Linked DNA regions of Homo sapiens: region 2 is linked to region 1. The links come from fine-mapping of genetic effects on gene expression. A gene starts in region 1. The other region holds a variant in brackets. All regions are shown on one strand. Distances are between the middles of the regions. Region 1 holds the start of PLCH2 (phospholipase C eta 2). Region 2 has its middle 10 kb from the start of PEX10.

Region 1 (11,034 bases):
GCATCCACCTCCCTCCACCTGCAGCCCCCAGTGCCCGGCTGGCCCGGGGCTCCACGTTTAACCAGCACGTCTCCACGTTCCAAGGAAGCCCCTGGACACCTCCAGGGCTCCAGCGCCGCAGGTGGGGACAGCGGCTCCAGGGACCCCCAGCTCCGCGCTCAGGTGCATCGAGGCTCTTGTGACCTCAGGTCCCCCTGGGGGCTCCGCAGCGCGACTCTCTCCACGGGCCCAAAGTGGCTACACGCTTGGCAACTGCTGGGCTGAGGCCTTGCCTGGCATGCCTGGGTCCTGACCATCAGCAAAGCCATCAGAAACCCTGGCTGCGCCCTGATCCCAGCCCTTGAGGACTGCCATGTCTCTCCCCAAACCGTGGGACCCTACCCGTTCCCTGTGTGCCTCAACTCTCCCCACCCACCCCCTGCACAGAGCCTCCATCTCGGGTGGCCCCTGCTCCCTCCAGCAGCCATGCCCAGTGGCTGCCTGAGCCACTGTTTGCACCCATACCCATCCATCAGCATACCTCTGTGGGGGTCGTTTCTGTTTATGGGGAGCTGTGACCTCCCCAGCTAGATGGACTATGCTGTGCCCCTCCTTCCAGCCCAGCACTCAGCACAGGGCTGGGCACAGTGCTACTCGGTCCTCACTGAGTCCCAGGGAGCTCTGCCAGGCGGGCAGGGGGCCTGGATCCCTCCTACCCCACAGCCCGAGGTCACTGCAGATCCCCAAGGCCACTGAGCCCAGAGGTGTCCAGGCCTAGGGTCTCGCTGCTCCTCAGCCATCAGTGGCTGCCCTGGGAGGGTCCCTACCGTCGTGTCCCCCCAGGGACTCTGATTTGTCCCCACCCCAGGGCTCCCACTCACTCTTGGCCTTCTCGTTCTTGCGTGAGGGCCTCCAGCGGATGCAGGAGCGGTGCTCGTCCAGGTAGTAGAAGCGGACCAGGCCCTTGGAGCCGCCACGCAGCTTCACCATCTGCATCCCCTCTTGCATGGCACCCATGCACCGCTCCACTGGACACGGGAGAGACACGGCTGTCAGCGGAGGCACAGCCACTCCTCGCAGGAGAGACACGGCCGTCAGCGGAGGCACGGCCACTCCTCACGGGAGAAACACGGCCGTCAGCGGAGGCACGGCCACTCCTCACCTCGCCCGGCCCCGCCCACACCGCCCTGCCAGTGACAGGGCAAAGGCCAGAGCCCAGGGCCACCTCCACCCCAGGTGCCGGCTTGCCTGGGTCACACAGCTCAGCTGGGCCCTGCCACTCCTCCCCAGATGGTCCTGGGAACTGAGGGCCCTGCTCCCCACCCTGCTCGGCCACCTGCCACTCCCACCACCTCCTGGACCAGTCCTAGCAGCCCTGGTAACCGGCGCTGGGCCTGGGGCCCCGAGAGCTACCACTCAGACGGAGCCAGCACAGAACTCAACAATGGGAAGGCCGGGCACGAGGCAAGACAGATGAGGTGGCTGGGCTGGCTGTCTGGGGCCATAGTGCAGTGGAGGCCCCTTGTCAGGGGCGGGGTGGGCCTAGCAGGCAGCAACCCCATGCCCCTGCCCCCGCCCCTGGCCACAGGTGGCTCCTGGGAGCGGTCGAATTCCTGAGTGCCTGTGCCCCTGCCTGGGGCATCTCCAGGAAAGCCCCCACCCCTCATGTGCAACAAGCGCCACGAATGGTGCCATGAATGTCTGCGTCGCACGCCCTGCACTGCAGTATGGACTTGGGAGGCTGTGGTGCCGGATCCGAGCTTCACAACCCCTCCCCTCCCCTCCCCCAGGCTGCCTGCCTCGCTCCTTCTCTCCCCTCCTCTCTCCATTCAGCCTCCTGCTGTAGCTTGTCCCAGGAGAGGGGGCTGCAGGGTCCAGGGAGTCCAGGCCAGAGTCAGCTGTCCCAGCCCAGGAACAGACTGGTCTCACCCCCTCGGTTCCTGCACACCTGCTCACAGAAAGCCCGGGTCCCAGAGGTACCATCTGCTAAAGCACAGAGACGTTAATCCCCACCCCAGGTCTGCACGCTGAGGGACCCTGGCGGGGGCGTTGTAGAGGACCAAGGGCAGTACTGGCCGGGCCTTCTTGGGGAAGCTACTACGTGATCACGAGCAGAGGGGAATTGAAGGGATGGAAGCCATGGCATGGGGGGCTGGGCTCTCCGGGGCACATGGGAGGTGAAGACGCAGGTATGGCTGCAGGGATTTAGGAGAGGGGTGAGGCAGGACACAGGGGCAGGGGGCGGGCAGAGGCCTGCAACAGGGCAGCCTGGACAGGACCCTGTCTGCCGCTGGAACAGAGAGCTGGCAGGCCAGCCCGGACCGGGGCCCTCCACAGGCCACCACAAGACACACACTCCACCCTCCCAGCCATACCCAGCCAGTCTCCTCTGCAGAGTCTCCTAACGGCAAAGGCCCTCATGTCCGGCACCAGGATGCCAGCCCAGCCGCCTGGGCTGCAAGCACCACTGACCCCCAGAGCACAAGGCACCCCTTCAATGAGAGCATTGGAGCCACCTGAGATCCCCCCTCGCCCCCTTGGGTTCAGCCCCCAGGCCCTGCAGGTGCCTGGGAGACCGAGGTGTGCTGAGCACGCCTCTGAGCGGCTGAGGGGCAGGGCCAGCCGACGCTGCTGGACCCACATGATCCCTAGAGCACCCGGGGGACAGGGGAGGCGAGTGCAGGATGGGATGGAGGCCCAGGCTTCCCCCACCTCCAGGAACAGCCCCCACCCACCAGTCACCTGGCCAGGGCCAGCACTCAGCCCAGGCCACTCGCCTGCCCCTTCTTACCCAGGGGGCCGAGCTGCCACTCTGAAGACAGCACCACACTCCCTCCAACCCAGAGGAGTACCTCCGCCAGCCAGGCCACCGTTCCCTTGGTCCGGCTGTCGGGGGAGGGCCATGGACCAGACATGGCCTGACGACAGCCGGGCCTGCTTCACGGAGGCCACAGAGGCCCACCGGCCTTCGGGCAGCGGAGGTCAGGCAGTGGCAGCGCTGGCGACAGGACCTCCGTGGGGCCTTCTCTCCTCTGCCTCTTCCTCCTCCTCCTCAGGGCCCTCCGAAGCCCCCACAGGGCTGTGCCCAGGCCCGGCTGGCATTGGCCTGACCGTCACCTGCTGTCCTGATGGCCCCCAGGCCAGCCTATCCACCCTCCAGGGCCACCAAGGAATCCCTGACGCAGCCGCCTCCCAAGGCTGGGGGAGCAAAGGACCTCAGCCCCGCCCAGCCCCAGGCCCAATCCCTGTGCTAATCCCAGCTCCAGCCCAGCTGGTGGAGGATTTAGGCCGAGGGAACTCCCAGCTGGGGATGGGAGGGCACTGGGGAGGCAACAGAGTTTCCCAAGGCCCCAGGCCACCAGACCCAGGTCAGGGCTGCGGGACAAGAGCAGGACCAACGGGAGGGCCCTCCTGGGACCCAGAGAACGCAACCGGAAGGCCTGCAGGGTACTGTCCTCCGAGGACCCTGTGTGGGGTGGGCCTCCCCGCTGTGCGCCCACCACAGATGCCGAGGCTGGGCCTGGAGTGGTCCCTGCCCTCACCCCGCATCCCTACTTATGAGGACCTCTGAGTGGATCCCCAAAGTCCAGAGGCAGGTGGCCCAGAGCAGGGGCAGAAGCTCACCTCATCCCCGCAGCGCCCAGCCCCTGTGGCTGGAGAGGGGAGCCGAGCCGGATCCCTTACAGCGACAACTCCCAGCCCAGGCCCAGGATGTGGGTCCCTGAGCCTGGGTTGGGCTCTCCATGTCTCCCTCATGCAGCTGCAGCCCCAGCCTGACCTTTCTCCACGGTCACCGAGCTGTGGCGGAGGAGGTGGCCCCATGCCCAGGGCACGTTTGTCCCCACATTCTGCCCTGCAGGGATGACAGCCATCTGACCTGGACAGGGGCCTCGCCCAAGGAGGACCCACCCCACCGTCTCAGCTCCCACTGAGGAAAGGACTCCAGGTCCCACTGCCACCAGGACCACACAGCCCACCCTGTGTACTGGCCCCGCACTACAGGACAGCACAGGCTCTCCCATCCCCAAGTCCAGGCCGGGACACCAGGGGCAGCTGTGGGAATGGGAGGTGGGCAGACCCCGGCTGAACACCAGCCACCTGTGTCCTGGCCATGCCCATGCTTCGTGACCACACTGGGGAGAACCCCGCCCTTCTTCCCACCCACTGCCCAGGCTCTACTGGCTCCAGCAACAAGGACTGGAAGGTTCCGGGCAGCTGCTCGCCTCCCCCCATACCAGGGGAGGAGTTTGGCCTGCAGAGCCCAGGACAGGGAGGTGCCAGGGCTGGGCATCCTGGCAGAGCCCCGGGGCCAAGGTCAGGCGTGGGAGGTGGCAGTCCCTGAGGAGATGGCCATGCGTCTCCAGCTGACCACTGACAACCAGGGCCACACCCAGCCAGATCAGATGCAGTCAGCACAGAGCCAACCCAGGCCCCCACCAGGGGCCCCGTCACAGGCTCTGCTGCTCTCGGCGGAAGCAGGTCAGCAGGCGTTTCTGGGCTCTGCCGTGGAATTAGATTAGGGAGCCATGAGCTGCAGGGAGAGGAGAGGGGCTGGAGTCCCGGGCGTCCTCAGGAAGACAGGGCCTCGGGGAAGGCCACCGTGTAAGGGGCAGCGCAGGGGCCAGGAGGTGGCCTGAGGGCCTGGAGACAGACCAGACGGCCATAGCCCTGGCCCAGGGCCCCTGCCCACCTCATACTGGGCTGCTGCGGGCTTCCACTCTGACCCAGGGGGTCCAGTTCTCCTTCCTGCACCTCAGAGGCCTCCTGGCCTGGGACACACCTGCTGTTCCCTCACCCTGGGCCTGGCCCCAGCTGGGGGTGCTCCCGTCTCTCACCCATCCCTCCTTGAAGCTCCCCAAGGCTGGGCCTCTGCTCCCTCCCTCCCTCCCTTGAGCTCTCAGCCACTAGCTGATCCCCCATCAGCTGGGGTTAGGGCTTGGAGGCCGCCATCTGCCTGGGCAGGGGTTCTGAGAGGAGCCACACATAGAGTGCCTGGCCCCAGCCCCACAACGTGGGTCCCAGGCTCCTGCACCCCAGGCCCCCTGACCTCCTCAGCAGCAGAGCTGGAATCCTCAACTGTCCAGGCGGGTGGAGGCCTGGCTAATCCCTTCCTGACACAGGCCTCTGCCGGGGGCTGCCCTGCCTGCCCTGAGGTCCAAAGGGACCGCCCACTCCCCTCCAAAACTCAGGCAGACACAGAACCGCAGCTGCAGCGTGAAGCCGGGGGTGCCCCGGGCCAAGAGACGTGGCAGGGGCCCAGGCCCAGAGACTTAAGAACCCCTCCCCACGTGCTGCCTGTGAGCCGGCCCAGGGCCCAGCCCAGCCCCCACACAAGGTCACGGAGGGGGCTGCCCCACCCCCATGCCGGCAGGCGAGCCCAGCCCCACAGCCTGCACTGACGGGCCCTCATGCTCACCCTGCCTGCCCTGAGCCAGGGCCCGGCCATCCTGAAAGCCCACAGGGAGGCCGAAGAAGCCACGCTCTGCTCTGTGGTTCCACACAGGGGCCCAGCCCTCAGCCATGGTCCACACCCACCCCCAGGCCGCCTCGGCCCCTCCCGTGAGCCTGAGCCAGGACACCTGATGTGGGAGCTCAGGTGGGATTGTAGCAATGCACCTGGCTGTGGGCCCACACCAGAGGCCAGACTGGGAAGGGCCGGCAGTCCTGGTCGGGCAGATATAGGCTCCGTCGGGGAGAGGAGGGCCCTGGCTCACCTGCTGCTCCCCCAGGTCCCTGCACAGCACAGTGGGGCTCCCCAGTCCTCAGAGCACTGCCTGACCCCGGGACATCCCTGGGGCAGGGACCTCGAAGTCCTCCTCCCTGCTCTGTCCCTGTGAGGCCATGATCCAACACGTAGCAGGCGCTGGCTGGACACAGGTGGACAGGGAGGGACGGGCAGGACAGAGGCAGCTAAGGCCACCAGGCCTGCTCTGAGGAGGTGACGGGAGCCAGTGTCCACACTGGTGTCCAGGGTCCAGCTCTCAAGGGTCTGGCCGGCTTCAGCCCTGGGCCTGGAGAAGCCTCCCACACAGATGCACCCAGATGGGCGGATGGGTGGACAGACGGGCAGACGGGGCTGCACCCCAGTTGGGGAGAGTGCATGGGAGGGCTCTGCGGGCCCCACGGTGACACGCAGAGGAATGCGCCCGTGATCCCCTGGGCTCAGCCCCCGCACCTGGGCTGCACCGGCCCACCCTGACTGCCTGGCCCTGGTGGCTGCTGGGAAGCAGGGGTCCTGGGCCTGCCCCCCGACCTTGGGTTGTCCTCCCTGTCTCAGTGCCTCAGTTTCCCCACTGTGAGAGGTTTGCTCCTGCAGCCCCTTCCTTTCTTCCCAAGGCTGGAACCGGGCGGGTGGCAGCTGATTAGAGGAAGAGCGCGCGCTGTCAGAAGCCAGGGCGGTGTTGGCTTAATTTTGTTTTTATGGCGGAGATCGATCTTGTCCTAACACAGCAGGCAGCATGGGCCTCGCGGCTGTCATCAACAAGGGGCCAGCGGTGGCTCAGCATCTCCGCCTCTCCCCTGGGGAAGGCTGGAAAATAATGAATCTTCCAACAAAACCCACAAATCACACCCACAGGCCTCCCGGCATGTACACACACACCCGGGGCAGCTTTGGGTACCGCAGCCCCTCCCACGACAGGGGCATGGGGACTGCACATGCCCCTCCACCAACCTCTTCCCTTCACGAGCGTGTACGGGACGGGCAGGGGCCCCACCTCTTCCAGGCCTGTCCAGAGGTGGCCCTGGCTGCCTCTAAGCCCCCTCCTCTCCCGACGCTTGCTGCCTTTCAGCAGGACATTTCAAAGGACCTCCCTGGGCCCACCCGTGTCTCCCTCTGAAGCCCCCACAGGGCTGTGCCTGGGCCCGGCTGGCATTGGCCTGACCGTCACCTGCTGTCCCAATGGCCCCCAGGCCAGCCTACCCACCCTCCAGGGCCACCAAGAGTCCCTGAGGCAGCCGCATCCCAGGGCTAGGAGAGCAAAGGACCTCAGCAGCAGTGAGGCATGAGGGCCAGATGCTCCTGCAGCCCTTCCTGGCCCTGGCTCTTCCGCGCCCCCCTGCCCCTCGCAGCCCCAGCATCCCCCTCCCGTGCTGCCCCCAAGGGCCGGCCCAGCATGCAGGAGGGGCTGAGGCTGTGCTTGGGTGGACGGGAGGGAGGAGGAAGTGGCCACCTTGCCCCAGCCACAGTGCTCACTGGAGATCAGCCGGGCCCCTGGACTGGCGCCGCACGGGAGGGAGGGCCGGGCCCACACACATATGGCGGAGATTATTTAAACGTCTGAGAGAAGCCACTTGTCCCCCCGCACGTCTGGGAGCCTCCTCCCCAACTATTTTTATTTTATCAGGAGTGTGAGTCGGTGCCTCGAGCCCTCCCCACAGGCAGGACCCCAGAGTGGTCGTGCTAGGAGCCCAGGGATCCCAGAGTCAGGCTGGGCCTGAGGGGTCCCAGCAAGGGCAGGGGAACCAAGGGCAAGTGCCCGGGGCCTGTGGGGCTGGGGCCACCCTAGGCACACCTGGAGGGCACCGCAGGGACAGACGCTCTGCCCTCTCCTCTGGCAGCGCCCTCCGTGTGGCAGCCACTCCAGCTCTCAGCAGGAGGTGGGGGCGTTGTGGAGGGAAGGGCCTGACCCCATGGCAGTACCCAGCTCGGCAGGGGAGCAGGCCGGAGGGGGCCCTGGGGCCTGACTTTGTTCTGCCCCCTTGGGTGGCTCCTGGTCCGTGTGCACAGAGCCCTGGGGGAGCTGGAACGGCCAGTGTCCTAGAGCGTGGGGACAGGTTCTCGATGGCCAGCCATACTCCATCGGCCGCGCCACCTGACCTGCCCTCCACCTTCCACCGGCCCCAGAGCAGGGGGAGGACAGCAGCCAGGCTCATGCTCCCCTGGTGGCCCAGCTGCTGCTAGAAGGATCCAGCTCCCACAGGGCCCAGAGGGAGGGCCAGCAGACACCTTTCTTCTGTCATCCGGCCACCCGGTGTGGAGGGATGGACAGGAGGACTTGTGATGGTCACAGGTGTCCAAAGCAGTCCCAGTTGCACAGAAAGGTGCAGGAACTTGAGGCCACTGGACCCTCCAAGCAGCCGGCAGTGGCAAGTGGACAGGATGGCCTCTGAGGCCAGGTGACCCGTACCTTCCCCCAGTGCAGCCCTTCTTGTGCAGGTGGGCGCCTGCCCAGCCCAGGCCTCCACACTCTCCAGCTGGCCCGCTATGGCCAAGGGGGCCCCAACATCTGGCCTTTCTCTGGCCTCTTCGGGACAGCCAGGGCCAGGTCCCCATCTCAGTAAGGGTCCCTCCCAGAGTGGGCTCCCCTTCCTGCCCCCTCGCCGTCCCCAGCCATCCCCAGCTGGTGGCAGCCCAGCTCACAGCAGCGGTATTAATCGCACTTGACAGCCCCATCAGGAAGGGGACCCTATTAATAGCCCATTTCACAGCTTCCTCCCCCCACCGCGAGTGCCCCCCCCATTGTGTGTCCCTGGAGGCTCCTGTCCCTGCCACAAGTCACTGGTTTCTCTGAGGCCCTGGCTGCCTCTCTGCCCTCACTGAGCAGGGCATGGCCAGCAGGGGCATCGCACCCACCTGGCCTGGGGCTCTCTGAAGGCAGGTGCACGGCCTTGCCCCCAGCCACCGTCCAGGACACCCCAGAGGAGCTGCAGAGGGAGCCAGGCTCGTGGCAGCCACGGTGGGGGAGCCTTTCCTGAAAAGTCACCAGATGGAGCCTGGCCTGCCAGCTGGGAGAGAGGGAGCTCCTGCCGAGTGAGGGGAGGGGGCTGCAGCTCCAAGGGGAGGGTCCTCGGGCCAAGTGGTCAGAGCCAGCCCTGCCCCCAGCCCATAGCCAGGCGCGGGAGGGAGGGTGGCAGCTGGGCCGCTGCCAGGCAGAGCAGGCATGGAGCCACGGAGGAGGCGAGGAAACAGGAGGCTGAGCCCGCCACATCCGTCCCGGCACGGGGCTGCTCTTCCCGGCCAGAGCACCCCGGGCCACTGCCAGGCCGGGGAGCAGCCCCACGAATGCTCTGCCAGAGAGTCTCAGACAGAGAGGGTGTCCTGGAGATGGAGCTGGCCCTCTGAGCTTCCCTGCCTGAAGTTTCTGGGATCTTGTATAGTCGTTCCGTCCCTGTCTGGACCTCCCTGCTCAAGCTGGCCCTGGGGCTGGGCTGGCTGCCCTGTCTCCCACTCCTGCCTTTTGGGAGCCAGTGAGGTGCTCCCTGGGTCGGCCCCCACCCACACACCAGCTGACCCAGGAAGGGCACAGGGCTGCCCCTGAGAACTGGGCCGCCCGAAACCTCCACAACAGGGACCTGAAAGTCGGAGCAGCCAGGGGCCTGATCAATGTGAAATCAAGACCACTCAAGTCCCTCAGAGGTGTGTTCCTGGGTCGCCAGGTCTGAGCGGTGGAAGGGACCTACTCCCAGGACAGTGTGGCCACCGTCCCCAAGTCAGGGCTGCATCATGGTGCCTGGGACCTGCCTGCTGAAAGAGCCTCCTGTAGCCCTCACCCAGGTGCTGCTCTCTGGGGCAGAGCTGGAGGGGGTTCCACAGTCCCACCAGAGTGGCTCACTGTTGTCTCCAGTGACCGTCAGCCACAAGGCCCCCTCTCGGGGTCTTCACCCAGCTAGCATGGAGCCATGCCTGCGGCCACCACGGTGAGTGACTTCTCAGGAGCCAGAGGAAACGTCCTGTCCTGGGGATGGTGTCCACCAACTCCACCCTGCCCCCACACGGGAGGCCCGCGCCCACTCGCCTTTCCCACACAGGAAGTCCGTCCAGCCGGTGGGAGCCCACGTATGCAGTGCTGGGAGCAAAATCCCGGGAAGAAACAGGCACGTTGGATTACTCATCCCCTTCCCCAACCCCTCCCCCTGCCCACCCTCAATGAAGGTGGAGCCACTGGGCCTGGGTCCCTGAGAGGGCCCCAGGCACCCCACACACACCTGCCCCAGCAAAGGGCACTGCCCGGGCAGGGCCAGCCCATGGCTTCTCCAGGAGAAGGTGCCAGGAACTGGGACGCCATCGTCATCAGCTCATTAGCTGTGCAGATGGAGGGCTGGACCCAGGACACTGGCCCATCTGCTCCGTCCTCGGCGGCACGTGGAGTCTGTAAGGACTGTTCTGCTGGCTCCCCTCCCTCTGCCCAGAGGACGCAGGCACGGAGGGTGGGCTCAGAGCCACTCCCACCACTGCCCCCTCCTAAGACTAGGCCCTTCCCTGGCCAGCTGCAGACCCCAAGTGTGCTGGGTCTCCTGGAACCTGGGGCTTTGGGGCCACCCGGCAGCAGCCAGCCCCTGTCCACAGCAGGCAGGCATCCTGAGCCCAGTGGCCAGCACAGGGCAGTGACTCCAGGGAGCTCTCTGCAGGCCAGACAGGCAGGAACCAGGGACAACGTGCCCAGGAGAGCCCTGGGATGGGGGCTGCGGTCAGCGAGTGGGTGCACCTGGAGTGACCTGAATATACAGCCCATCCTACAAACAGTGTCTGCCCAGCAGCCCTGGTTACATCTGCCACACTATTCTCCATTCAGAGAGGGCACCTCCACTGGGGGTGGGACAGAGGAGGGGACAGGCACCCTGGAGCAGCTGCACAGGCCAGGCACGGCATGACCACTGCAGACAGGCTTGCTCTGAATGCCCACAGCCACCCTGTGAAAGCGCCCCATGCTATCCCTCTTGCCCATGGAGGCTCAGAGAGGCTCAGTCCCTTGTGTGAGGTCACACGGTTTATCAGAGGCAAAAACCAGCAACCCGTCCCCAGTCTGCCCAGCAGCGATGCCATGTCCCACCCCACGTGTCCATGCCAATCACAGGGCAGAACAAGCAGGTTCCAAACCACCAGGAGGCAAGCTCCTACTGTCCCTGGAAACCCAGGAGTTCCTCCTGGTGTCTGGCCTGAGCCACTTCTTCTGCAGCCGTGGCCACTGTCCCCCTTCACGTTTTCCTCTCCCCGCCCCTGGCCCAGAGCTAGCGCTGTGTTTGGGGAGCTGGAGACCCTGCCCCTCTGGCCCAGAGCTAGCGCTGTGTTTGGGGAGCTGTAGACCCTGCCCCAGCCAGTGCTGAAGGGGCCTG
Region 2 (10,994 bases), 51 kb after region 1:
CGGTGCCAGGCCTTCAGCCTCTGCTCAGACCCTGGACCTGCTGCCTTGGGCAACTCTCACTGACAACGTCACTCGGGGCCAGGCTGGACCGGGCCATGCTGGGGACAGGGTGGAGAGGTCCCCTGGACCCTGTCCCCATTGAATCAGGAAGCACAGCCCAGGCCCAGGCCCAGCTCCGGGCCGAGTGCCCAGGGTGCAACGACCACACACAGACCAGCAGATCTTCCTCTAGGCAGGGACCTCTGCCCTCGAAGCCCCCGGAGGATGAAGTGTCACCCACTCAGCAGGTCCTACAGCCCTAAGTTCCCAGCCTGCCCGCCCACTGCTCTCACCCACAGGGAGAGCCCAGGTACCTGCTCAGGGCCAGCGAGTCCAAGCCGGCTCCCACCCCTGGAGGGCTCCCACCCCCGGAGGGCTCCCACTTCTGGAGGGCTCCCACTTCTGGAGGGCTCGCCGGCTGCTTCTGTTTCAATACCTGCGGTGGCCCCTCACGCTGTGTCCCTTGGATCGCGAGCTCCCAGCAGAGGTACCGGAGGCCCCCACAAGCCCCGGCCTGCTCCTCTGACATCCTCCCATCCTCCCTCCCACCTTCTGCGGCAGTGCCCAGGAAGTGGGGTGCCACACCCTTGGCTGGTATCCCCTGGCTCAGGAAGCCCCCTGAGGGCAGGTAGAAGTGGGAGCCTCAGCCTCTCCAGGAAAGATGTCACAGAGGGGCTCCCTCTCCCTCCTGGCCTGAGGCCCCACTGGCCACCCAGCCCACAAGAGAGTCCACTCTCAGGAGGGAGAGATTGAGGCCCAGAGAGGGCAGGACCCTATCCCGGAGAAACCACCAGCAGGGGCGGCTGAGCTGGGGCGGGTTCGGCTGCCCCCAGCACCTGACTCGTCCCAGACCTGCGGCCCCGGGCCCCCACGAGAGACCCAGAGGGTGAGGGGACAGCCTGCCTGCCCCAGCTGCCCTCCTGGCCCCAGGGCGCCCCACTGCAGCCCACTGCCCAGCTCCTCAACGCCCCCAGGAGCTCCACCCGGTGGGCCCCTAGCCGCCGGCACCCGCTGTCACACAGAGGCCACCTCCTGCTACTTCCCTGCTACCCTGACTTCCGTCTCCAGGCTGAACGTGGGTCCCAGGTATGGAGACCCCCGGCCAAGACGTCCTGGGCATAGGAGGCAGACCAGGCCCCATGCCAGTGAGCCTATGGCTGGGCCTCTGCCACTCTGCCAGGGGCCACTGGCTGCCCACAGTCCTCCCCACTCTCCCAGCCCAAGGCCCCTCTGTGAGGCCCTGCTCCCACCCCTGGACTTAGCGGATGCAGGGAACACAGACCTAAGGCCCCGGAGAAGCCACAGGCCCCAGCAAGCTCAGCCGCTGCCCCCAAGCTGGTGGGGTTGCTGGAGCCCGCCTGGCTACGCCCACCTGCTGGCCTGGCCGCACAGGGAGACAAAGAACCCAGCAGCCCCGACCCCACAACCGTGTCAGGAAGTGCGAGGCTGAGGCCAGGCCCCTCCATGCTCACAGCGGGCAGGAATGCCAGCCTGCACATCTGCGCTCAGGGGCCAGCTTCATGGAGGGAGTGGAGCCCGCCCAGCTCGCCGGCACTCTGGAGACAGAGGGAGGGGTGTTTGACAAGGGAAGGGAAGACCGCGAGGGGCCAGCCCTAGGTCAGCGTGGGAGCACTGGGCCGAGCTCGTGTGTGTAGGCCGGGGACTCCGCCACTCTGACCCGGAGGGAAAGGCCCCCAGGACCCCATGGGGACTCAGGAGGCTGCTCACGGCAGCCCCGAACCAGGGACTTTGGGAGGCCATGGGGTGGGGGACACCCCGGAGCCCCACTCAGTGTTAGAAGCAAGAAGGGGAAGCTTAGTGCCAGGTGGAGAAAGTAAAGATCAGAACGGGGTGCTTGGCCAAACACGGGGCCATAGACACTGCTCCCCAGAGTGTGGCCCACATAACCCTGGGGTCCTCAGAATCTTCCAGGAGCCTGCAAGGTCTAAGCTGTTTTTATGTAAAGGAGGTGTCCCTTCCCCGCGCTGACATCTGCACAGATGGTGAAAGGCTCTGATGGGTGACACCCTGGGCCTCGGCTCAGATACAGTGTCCTTCACCAGTGCGTGCTCAGAATTAAAGCAGAGAAGAGGCCATTTCCCTAAGAAGGTCTTTGTTGAAACAGCACAAATGATGAACTGTACCAAAGCTCAGTTCCGTGCAGGGAGCCAGGGAGAACAGAAAGCTGCCGCAGCAAAGGGCGTTTTCCTGGGAGGAGGCTCTCGAGCGACGGGGACTCCAGCTGAATTAGCCGGGGGACCCACAGTATAGTGGGGAGCAGGACTTTCCTGGAAAGACAGCTGAGACACTGTGGTGCTGCCGGCCGTGTGCTGCATAGGTATTTCCTCAAAAATGCATGAGCCCAGCGCAGTGCCTCACTCCTGTCATCCCAGAACTTTGGGAGGCCAAGGCAGGTGGATTGCTCAACTGAGGAGTTTCAGACCAGCCTGGGCAACATGGTGAAACTCCATCTCTACAAAAAAAAAAAAAACACACCAAAATTAGCCAGGCGCGGTGGTACGTGCCTGTAATCCCGGCTACTTGGGGGTCTGAGGCAGGAGAATCACTTGAGCACAGAAGGCAGAAATTGCAGTCAGCCAAGATCATGCCACTGCACTCCAACCTTGGCAACAGAGGCAGACCCTGTCTAAAGCCTGCCACCTAAAAACCAGCAGAGCAGATCCAGCAACCCCACTCCTGCATATACTCCCAAAGGAAATGAAATCCACGTGTTGAAGAGACCTGCATTTCCATGTCCACTGCCACACTGTTCACAACAGCCGAGTTACAGAATCAGCCTGAGTGTCCATCAGTGGATGAGTGGATACAGAAAATGTGTGTGGGGGGGTGTATGTGTGTGTATATGTGTGTATGTATATGTGTATCTGTGCATGTGTATATATGTGTGTGTATATGTGTGTATGTATGTGTGTGTTACATATGTGTGTGTAAATATGTGTGTGTGTGCATGCGCCCAAGCAACGAAATACTATTCAGCTTTTTTTTTTTTTTTTTTTGAGACGGAGTGTCACACTCTATCGCCTAGGCTGGAGTGCGGTGGCGCGATCTCCGCTCACTGCAGCCTCCGCCTCCTGGGTTCAAGTGATTCTCCTGCCTCAGCCTCCTGAGTAGCTGGGATTACAGGTGGCCGCCACCACGCACGTCTAATTTTGTGTTTTTTGTTTTTTGTTTTTTTGAGACGGAGTCTTGCTCTGTTGCCCAGGATGGAGTGCAGTGGAGCAATCTCAGCTCACTGCAACCTTCGCCTCCCGGGTCCACACCATTCTCCTGCCTCAGCCTCCCGAGTAACTGGGACTACAGGCGCCCGCCACCATGCCCAGCTAATTTTTTTATTTTTAGTAGAGACAGGGTTTCACTGTGTTAGCCAGGATGGTCTCGATCTCCTGACCTCGTGATCCGCCCGCCTTGGCCTCCCAAAGTGCTGGGATTACAGGCATGAGCCACCGCGCCCGGCCTAATTTTGTGTATTTTTAGTAGAGATGGGGTTTTGCCATGTTGGCCAGGCTGGTCTCAAACTCCTGATCTCAAGTGATCTGCCTGCCCCAGCCTCCCAAAGTGCTGGGATTATAGCTGTGAGCCACCGCACCTGGCCTCAGCCTTTAAAAAGGAAGAAATTCTGTCATTTTCAACAACATGGATGGAACTGGAGAACATCAAGTTAAGTGATATAAGCCAAACCACAGGAGACAAATACCACATCTTCTCACTTATATGTAGAATCTAAAACACCTGAGCTCATAGAAGCAGGGTAGAAAGCTGGTCCCTAGAGGCCAGGGTTTGGGGAATGGGGAGATGATGGCCAAAGGGTGCCAGGCCTCAGTTAGACAGGAAGGGTATGTTTTGTGGTTTGGGGGAATTTTTTAGTTCTGTTGTGCAGCATGGTGAATATAATTAATAATAGAGTTTCGTGCATTTCAAAACTGCTAAGAGTACATGTCAAATGTTCTCACCACAAAAGATGGTAAATATCTGAGGTGATGGTTATGTTAATTAGCTTGATTTAAACTGAAATGATTGTATTTAAAAATCATAACATCACTATCTACCTCATAAATATATACAACTATAATCTGTCAAATATATACTTTTAAAAATGAAATTTAAAAATAAACAGGCCGGGCACAGAGGCTCATGCTGGGAGGCCAGGGTGGGAGCACCACTTGAAGACAGGGTTTGAGGCTGAAATCACCCCTGTAAACTTTATAAAATTATTCAGAGAAGAAGGGAGGGGGAGAAGGGAAAATGAACTAAGCTGGTGGTGCAGGCAGCGTCACGACGAGGTGGGCTGGCTCTCTGACCTCTCCTCATAACTGTTGCTGCCTACTGCCCCAGAATCACACAGACCCCGTCCCAAGATCATAGTTCCCCTAACTACCATAGAGAGAACAACTTAAACATTGTAAAAGGTTGATTTCCATCTGAGATGCTCTTTCAGGTCCTGCATAACAGTAAAATTACTGATGCCAGCTGGTGGGAAGGACCTCACAGGAGCTGACTCACCAGCAAATGCATTTTCCACCTCCTGATTTCATCCCCCTTACCCCAACAAGTCAGTGACCCCAGCTTCTCCAGCCCCTCACCCTCCATAATCTCCTTAAGAACCCCAGCCCAGAACTCCAGGGGAGGTGGATTTGAGGGTCTCCTCCCATCTCCTTGCTTGGCACCTGCAATCATTAAGCTTTCTCTGCTGCAAACCCTGCTGTCTCCGTGTATCGGTTGGTTACTGTGCAGAGGGCACACCAACCTGGTGGCCTTGTAACAAGAACAGCAGGGACAACAGAGCAAGATCCCATCTCTTTAAAAAAAATAGCTGGGTGTGGGGGGATGTGCCTGTGGTCCCAGCTACTCAGGAAGCTGAGGCAGGAGGATTGCTTCAGCCCAGGAGTTCGAGGTTACGGTGAACTGTGATGGTGCCACTGCATTCCAGCGTGGGGGACAGAGCAAGACCTTGTCTCTAAAACAAACAAACAACAAACAAACAAACAAACAAAAAAACTAAATAAAACCCTCTCCAAAACAACACAAAACAGCAAATTGCAGGATCTGTTGCCAATAATAAAATTCAGGCTTAGGTAAAAATCAGCATTTTGGAAAACTTGTATTCATCACTGTGAGTCTATCAGCTTCCAAATATTTAAAGGCTTTTATCGTGAGATCGGGGTGATAGTAATGTGATTTTGGGATAATATTTAATAAAACGTGTCAAGATTTGAAAAATCTGCATAACTCAGTAAACCAATATTTTTCAAATTATTAATACCAAAACATGGTCTTCCAAAATTATGCACAGGTAAATTTCCACTCAAAGTGAAAAACAGGGCCAGGTACAGCGGCTCATGCCTGTAATCCCAACACATTAGGAGGCTAAGGTGGGAGGATCACTTGAGGCCAGGAGTTTGAGGCCACAGTGAGCTATGATGGTACCACTGCACTCCAGCCTGGGCAACAGAGCAAGACCCTTTCTCAAAACATAACAAAAACAAAAAACAAAGTAAAAACAGACCAACAGATGATAATGTAACACAACAGATGATAATGTAACAATACAAAAAGTCCATTGGCACGGTTTCAGATTCTGTTATCGCAACAACCTGTAAGAAACTCTACCATTCATCCAGTCCGGGTGTACCATCAGAGAAGAGTGTCCATGATTACCTGAAAAGGCGGCTCAGCCCTGTGAGGCCAGATCTCTTCACTGATTTCAACCAAAACACACTGCGACAGATGCAACGCAGATGCAGACAAACATTCAAGAGACTGCAAAACTGC[A/G]AAGCCACGTCCCTCTTCTCACTGGATTTTTTTGTTTTGAAAGTATTTTTCATAAAATGTTAACGTGTTATTTCTATTAACATGTCATTAGTTTATGGGTTTTTGTTTGTTTGTTTGTTTTTTGAGGTGGAGTCTTGCACTGTCCTCCAGGCTGGAGTGCACTGGCGCGATCTCGGCTCACTGCAACTTCCACCTCCTGGGTTCAAGCGATTCTCCTGCCTCAGCCTCCCGAGTAGCTAAGATTACAGGCACCTGCCACCATGCCCGGCTAATTTTTGTATTTTTAGTAGAGACATGGTTTCCATGTTGGCCAGGATGGTCTCAAACTCCTGGCCTCAGGTGATCCTCCTCCTTCAGCCTCCCAAAGTGCTGGGATTACAGGCGTGAGCCACTGCGCCTGGCCTTTTCTTCTTTTTTTGAGATAAAGTCTTGCTCCGTCGCCTGGGCTGGAGTGTAGTGGCGTGATCTTGGCTCACTGCAGCCTCTGCTTCCCAGGTTCAAGCAATTCTCCCGCCTCAGCCTCCTGTGTAGCTGAGATTACAGGCATGCGCCACCACGCCCAGCTAATTTTTGTATTTTTAGTAGAGACGGGGTTTCACCATGTTGGCCAGGCTGGTCTCAAACTCCTGGCCTCAGGTGATCCTCCTGCCTTGACCTCCCAATGTGCTGGGATTACAGGTGTGAACCACTGTGCCTGGCCCGTTGTTATTTTCAATAAGACTTCATGAATATTTTCATATTTTTTTATGAAGGTGGTGTAAACATGTGGTGTAAATATTCCCACTTGAGCCCACAGAGCACAGAGTGGGGAAGAGATGGACAGTATCATACGGCATTTCCACTAGACAGACACACACAGACTGCACCCAGATAACAGCGTGGATCACAGTAAGCTAGAAATAATTAGGAAGCAATACATTTTGAGTATTTATTTCCTTTGCTTTTTATAGTATTTCTGTGTTTTACATAATTTAATTACTTTAATTTGATTTGAATAATGGTTGTGTCCAACAACCAGCTGATGAGATTACTGGAGATGCTACCGTAGGTTCTGGTGAGCACGTGCAAGCCTGCTCCAGCACACACTACAGACAGCACCCCAAAACCAAAGCTCCTTGGGCTTCTCAACAGCTGCTAAGAGTGTTGGGGCCAGATGCAGTGGCTCACGTCTGTAACCCCAGCACTTTGGGAGGCCAAGGAGGGTGGATCATCTGATGTCAGGAGTTCGAGACCAGCCTGGCCAACGTGGTGAAATTCCGTCTCTACTAAAAATACAAAAATTAGCCAGGCGTGGTGGCGCATGCCTGTAATCTCAGCTACTCAGGAGGCTGAGGCAGGAAAATCGATTGAACCCGGGAAGCAGAGGTTGCAGTGAGCCGAGATCGCACCACTGCACTCCAGCCTGGGTGAGACTCTGTCTCAAAAAAAAAAAAAAAAGTGTGAAGGGATACTAAGGCCAAAACATTTGCACCCCACTAATAGTGATTAAAATACTCGCACCAGAACAACACAGCATTCTGGAAAATACAAAAAACGAGATACACACTCAACGCTCCTCAGAAGGAGTCCCAAGGGGGAAGAGATACTGATGTGGGTAAAGGCAATGAATCGATCGATCACTCACTCCACCCTCCAATCGAGAGAGGAGCGACTCCCACAGCCCTCCAGGCCTGAGGCCTGAAGAGGAGATTTTTCAAAATGGGGGTCTCTGGGTCAGAGGTCAGCTTGAAGCCTGCCCTTAAACTCTCCCTCTCTGACTCAGTTTCCTCATCTGTAAAGCGGGGTGCAAAGAGTGTGCCCCAGCCCTGGGGTCCTGAGAAGCTGGACCTGGCAGGCGGACTTGAGGCCCTTCCTGTGGTCCAGCTCCGGGACTCCCCAGCCCTCGGGGCTCTTTCTGCAGCCCCTACCTACCGGGACATAACCGTTCAGCCCCGCATCCCACTGTGGATCCGCAACCCCGCCCCTGCCTGGACCTTCTCCCCTTGCCAGCATCACTGGGCCCCACAGGCCCCCACACCCACCTCTCGAAGGAGGTGGAAGCTTTCAGACCTGCACCTGGGAAGCTTTGTCCTGAAATCACAGGGCAGGGGGCTGAAAGTGGAATCGAGCAGCGGGAGGAAGGACAAGAGGTAGGTGCTGCCTGGATGCCCCCCAGACACTGGCTCCTTTGGGATCCAAGTCTTGGGGAGGAGTTGGGGTCAGCTGAGAGGGATGTGAGGTAGGGGCTGGGGCGGGGGGCCTGTCTGAGTCCTTAACTCAGCACTGATGAGCTCCTGACCAATGACCAGAGATGGCGGGGAGTGGGGAGGCAGGTTACTGTTGCTGTGCCTGCCCCCACCCCCATAGCTGTACCCAGGCTACTGGGGAGGCAGCACAGGAGGGGGTAGTGGGGGGAGCGCACAAAGGGGTTGCCTGGGGGTGGGGGGGGGACTTGGCCTGCTATGCTTGAACTTTGAGTTGGCAAGAGCCGACTACGGGCAGCAGGTGCAGCAGTTCCGAGGCAGAAAGGGCCTGGCTGGCCCCAGCCCAGGGCTGGCTTGAGGGTCCCAGTCCAGCTTCTACGGACAGCTTCAGATTAATCCCCCAAGGATGAATATGGTGGAGCCCACAGGAAGAAGGATGAGCGGCCCCCAAGTCTCCAGAGCCCCATGTCACCACCTCCACCAGAGCCAGCAGCGCCTCCTCAAAGCTGGCCCCCGGGTCTGTGGATGCCAGGGTCAGGCACGGGGATCCCTGCATTGAGCTCCGGGCAAGAAGAGCCAGTGAGGTGGTGGGGTGGTAGATCTGGAGAGCCCCGGGCCCCTGCCTGCTCCCCTTCCGCCCTCACCGGCCTCACATCCCCAGGGGAGACCCTGCACCCCACTGCCATGGGAGGCGCCTCTGTCAACAACAAGTGGAAAACCCCCCCGACCAACGGCCGAGGCCCGGGCCTCAGAGTGTGGACCAGCTCCGCACAGGCGCCCCTTCGATCCCCTCTGGACAATTATTGTCTCTTCACAATCAGTGGGAAACTCAAGGACCAGCAAATAGGACCTCCAGGGCCAACCAGGAATGGCACGGCTGAGCCAGGGGTGCTGAGGGAAGGGGCTGGCAGGGGATAGATGGATTTACGGATGGATAGACAGACAGCAGCACAGCCCAAGGCCTCCACTGTGGATTGAAGCTCGACCGTGCAGACCAGGCCGGCAGCCTGGGAGGGGACAGATGACCGCAGGTGGGAAGGGTCAGGGCAGGCTCTCCTGGGACGGGCCCCACGCAGGGAAGGGCAAGGAGCTGGGCAGACAGATGGGGGAGCCTCAGACGCCACATCCTTGGCCAGGTGTCACATGCCCCAGCCAGAGGATGAGCCGTGCCAACCGCAGAGAGAGGCGTCGGGCACAGACCCCGAGGATGGGGAGGTGAGCAGGTCCTCTCTCGGGTAGGGGAGTGGTAGGAAGAATCAAGGGCTACTTGGCTGCAACCCCAATAAGCCAGGTTTTGCGCCAGCATTTCCCCACCCAGTGTGGGCTGAGGTGGGCAGAGACCTGGGCATAACTGGGCACTGGGAGATCAGCAGCCAGGGAGAGGGGGACAGCCAAGTCGAGGCCATGTGCAAAGGAGAGGCCGTCATAAGCGCACAGGTCAGGTGTCTGCGGAGCACACGGCTCACTCCCACTCGCACAGACAGGACCTGCGGAGGCAGGCGGGCAGGCTCAGGAGTCCAGGACGGCACCCCTGGAACTTGGGGAGCCTTTGCCTGACTGAAGATCCTGAGCCCTGAGGAGCAGCCTCGTGGGGAGCCCTTATTGTCCATCGGGCATCAAATGCCAGGTTCAGAACTCCTGAAGGAGGCGGGTCAGAGGAGAACAGGAGTGGATGACCCACACCATTCAGCCGTCCGAGGGAGGCAGTGGGTGGGGCCCAATGCCAGCCATGGCCCCGGGGCCCCTCCTTCTAGCACGTGGTGGAGCAGAACGACCAGAGCCCTGCCCCCTCCACTGAGACCCCCAGAGCTCGCTGCAGGAGCCCCCATGCCTGACCCTGGCATCCAGACCCGGGAGCCAGCTTTGATAACTAAAACACCCCCACTCCTGTCTCTCTCGGTCTAACTGAAGGCGCCCAGAGGAATGCTGGACGCTGTCACTGTCGGCAGCTGCTCATCGGTGTGAATCAGTTCAGTGCAGTTTCCAAAAAACAAAATTCAGAAACCAACTAGCTATGGGGCTGAAGACAGAGCAACGTGGGCTCTGCCCGGAATTCTCGGGGGCACCTGCCGTGATGGGTGTCTGCCTCGCACCGGTCACACGTCTTCACTGCGCTGACTCCACAGCTCCTGCAGGTTCCTGAGTGCCTGCGTGTTCGCGTTTGGGGGCAGGACACAGGGATGCCCTGGGCTCAGCCTCTTCTCACCAGAGTCTAAATGCCTGCAAAGCCCTGAGCTGGGGGTCCGAGGCAGGCCCCGGAGGGCACCCCACACATGTGCCATCCTGAGTCCTCTCATAACCCGGGAGGCAGGGGCCTCTATTCCCCCACTTGACAGGTGAGGAAGCTGAGGCCAGGGAAGACCAGGAGCTGCTCAAGGTCACACCTCAGCGCAGAGGCTGTAGCCCCTGCCCGTCCCCTCCTCCCAGGGCTGCCTGGCTCCCAGCCCTGACTCTGCCTTAGGGGAGGCTGTGTGGGGAAGGTGGCGTGGCAGTGCCTCAGGAGGTGGCTCCCAGGTGCCCTCCAGCCAGCACACAGCCCCTCACCGGCTGGCCACACTCAGCACAGCCCAGGCTATGCAGTGCTCGCAGGACAGGGCCGGACTCTCCACAGCCCATCCAGATGCCCACATCCAGAGTGGACGCCATTCCAGCTTGGGCCTCCCTCGTGGGTCCTCTCCGGCCTTGCCTAGTACCCACAGGTCCTGGGCTCACTCTCCTGGGAACCCCACCCTGTGTGATTCCAGACTCACCAGGCCCCCTCCCTCCGGCCTCACAGAGGAGGCTGGGAAGCTGGGCAGGGCCCACCCTTAGTGCCCCCCAACCCAACAATCCCAGCCTCCACTTGTCAGAAAAGGCCATGCCTCTCACATGGACAGAGCCCTCCCTCACTCTTACCAGTGCAAAGTCTCTTCCTCCAGGAAGTCCTCCCAGATCTCCTTTTTGGGGGACCCTTGGTTTCCAGCCCCTAGTTATCAGCCGGTT

The links. PIP is the estimated chance that this variant, and not a neighbour inherited with it, causes the effect.
Region 2: its variant is fine-mapped to the expression of PLCH2 in whole blood (TOPMed, PIP above 0.99). The same link has a PIP of 0.9 or more in blood mononuclear cells.

The regions. Positions count from the first base shown.
Region 1 is chr1:2,468,449-2,479,482 of GRCh38, reverse strand. It overlaps PLCH2 (phospholipase C eta 2), which reads right to left and starts at 3,194. Exons shown (of 22, transcript NM_014638.4): 1 at 2,771-3,194; 2 at 861-1,007. The coding sequence starts at 2,894.
Region 2 is chr1:2,417,227-2,428,220 of GRCh38, reverse strand. It overlaps a transcript of PLCH2 not described here. Among named protein-coding and RNA genes, the nearest start is that of PEX10, 10 kb to the right of the region's middle. The variant A/G (reference allele first, on the strand shown) is at 5,830.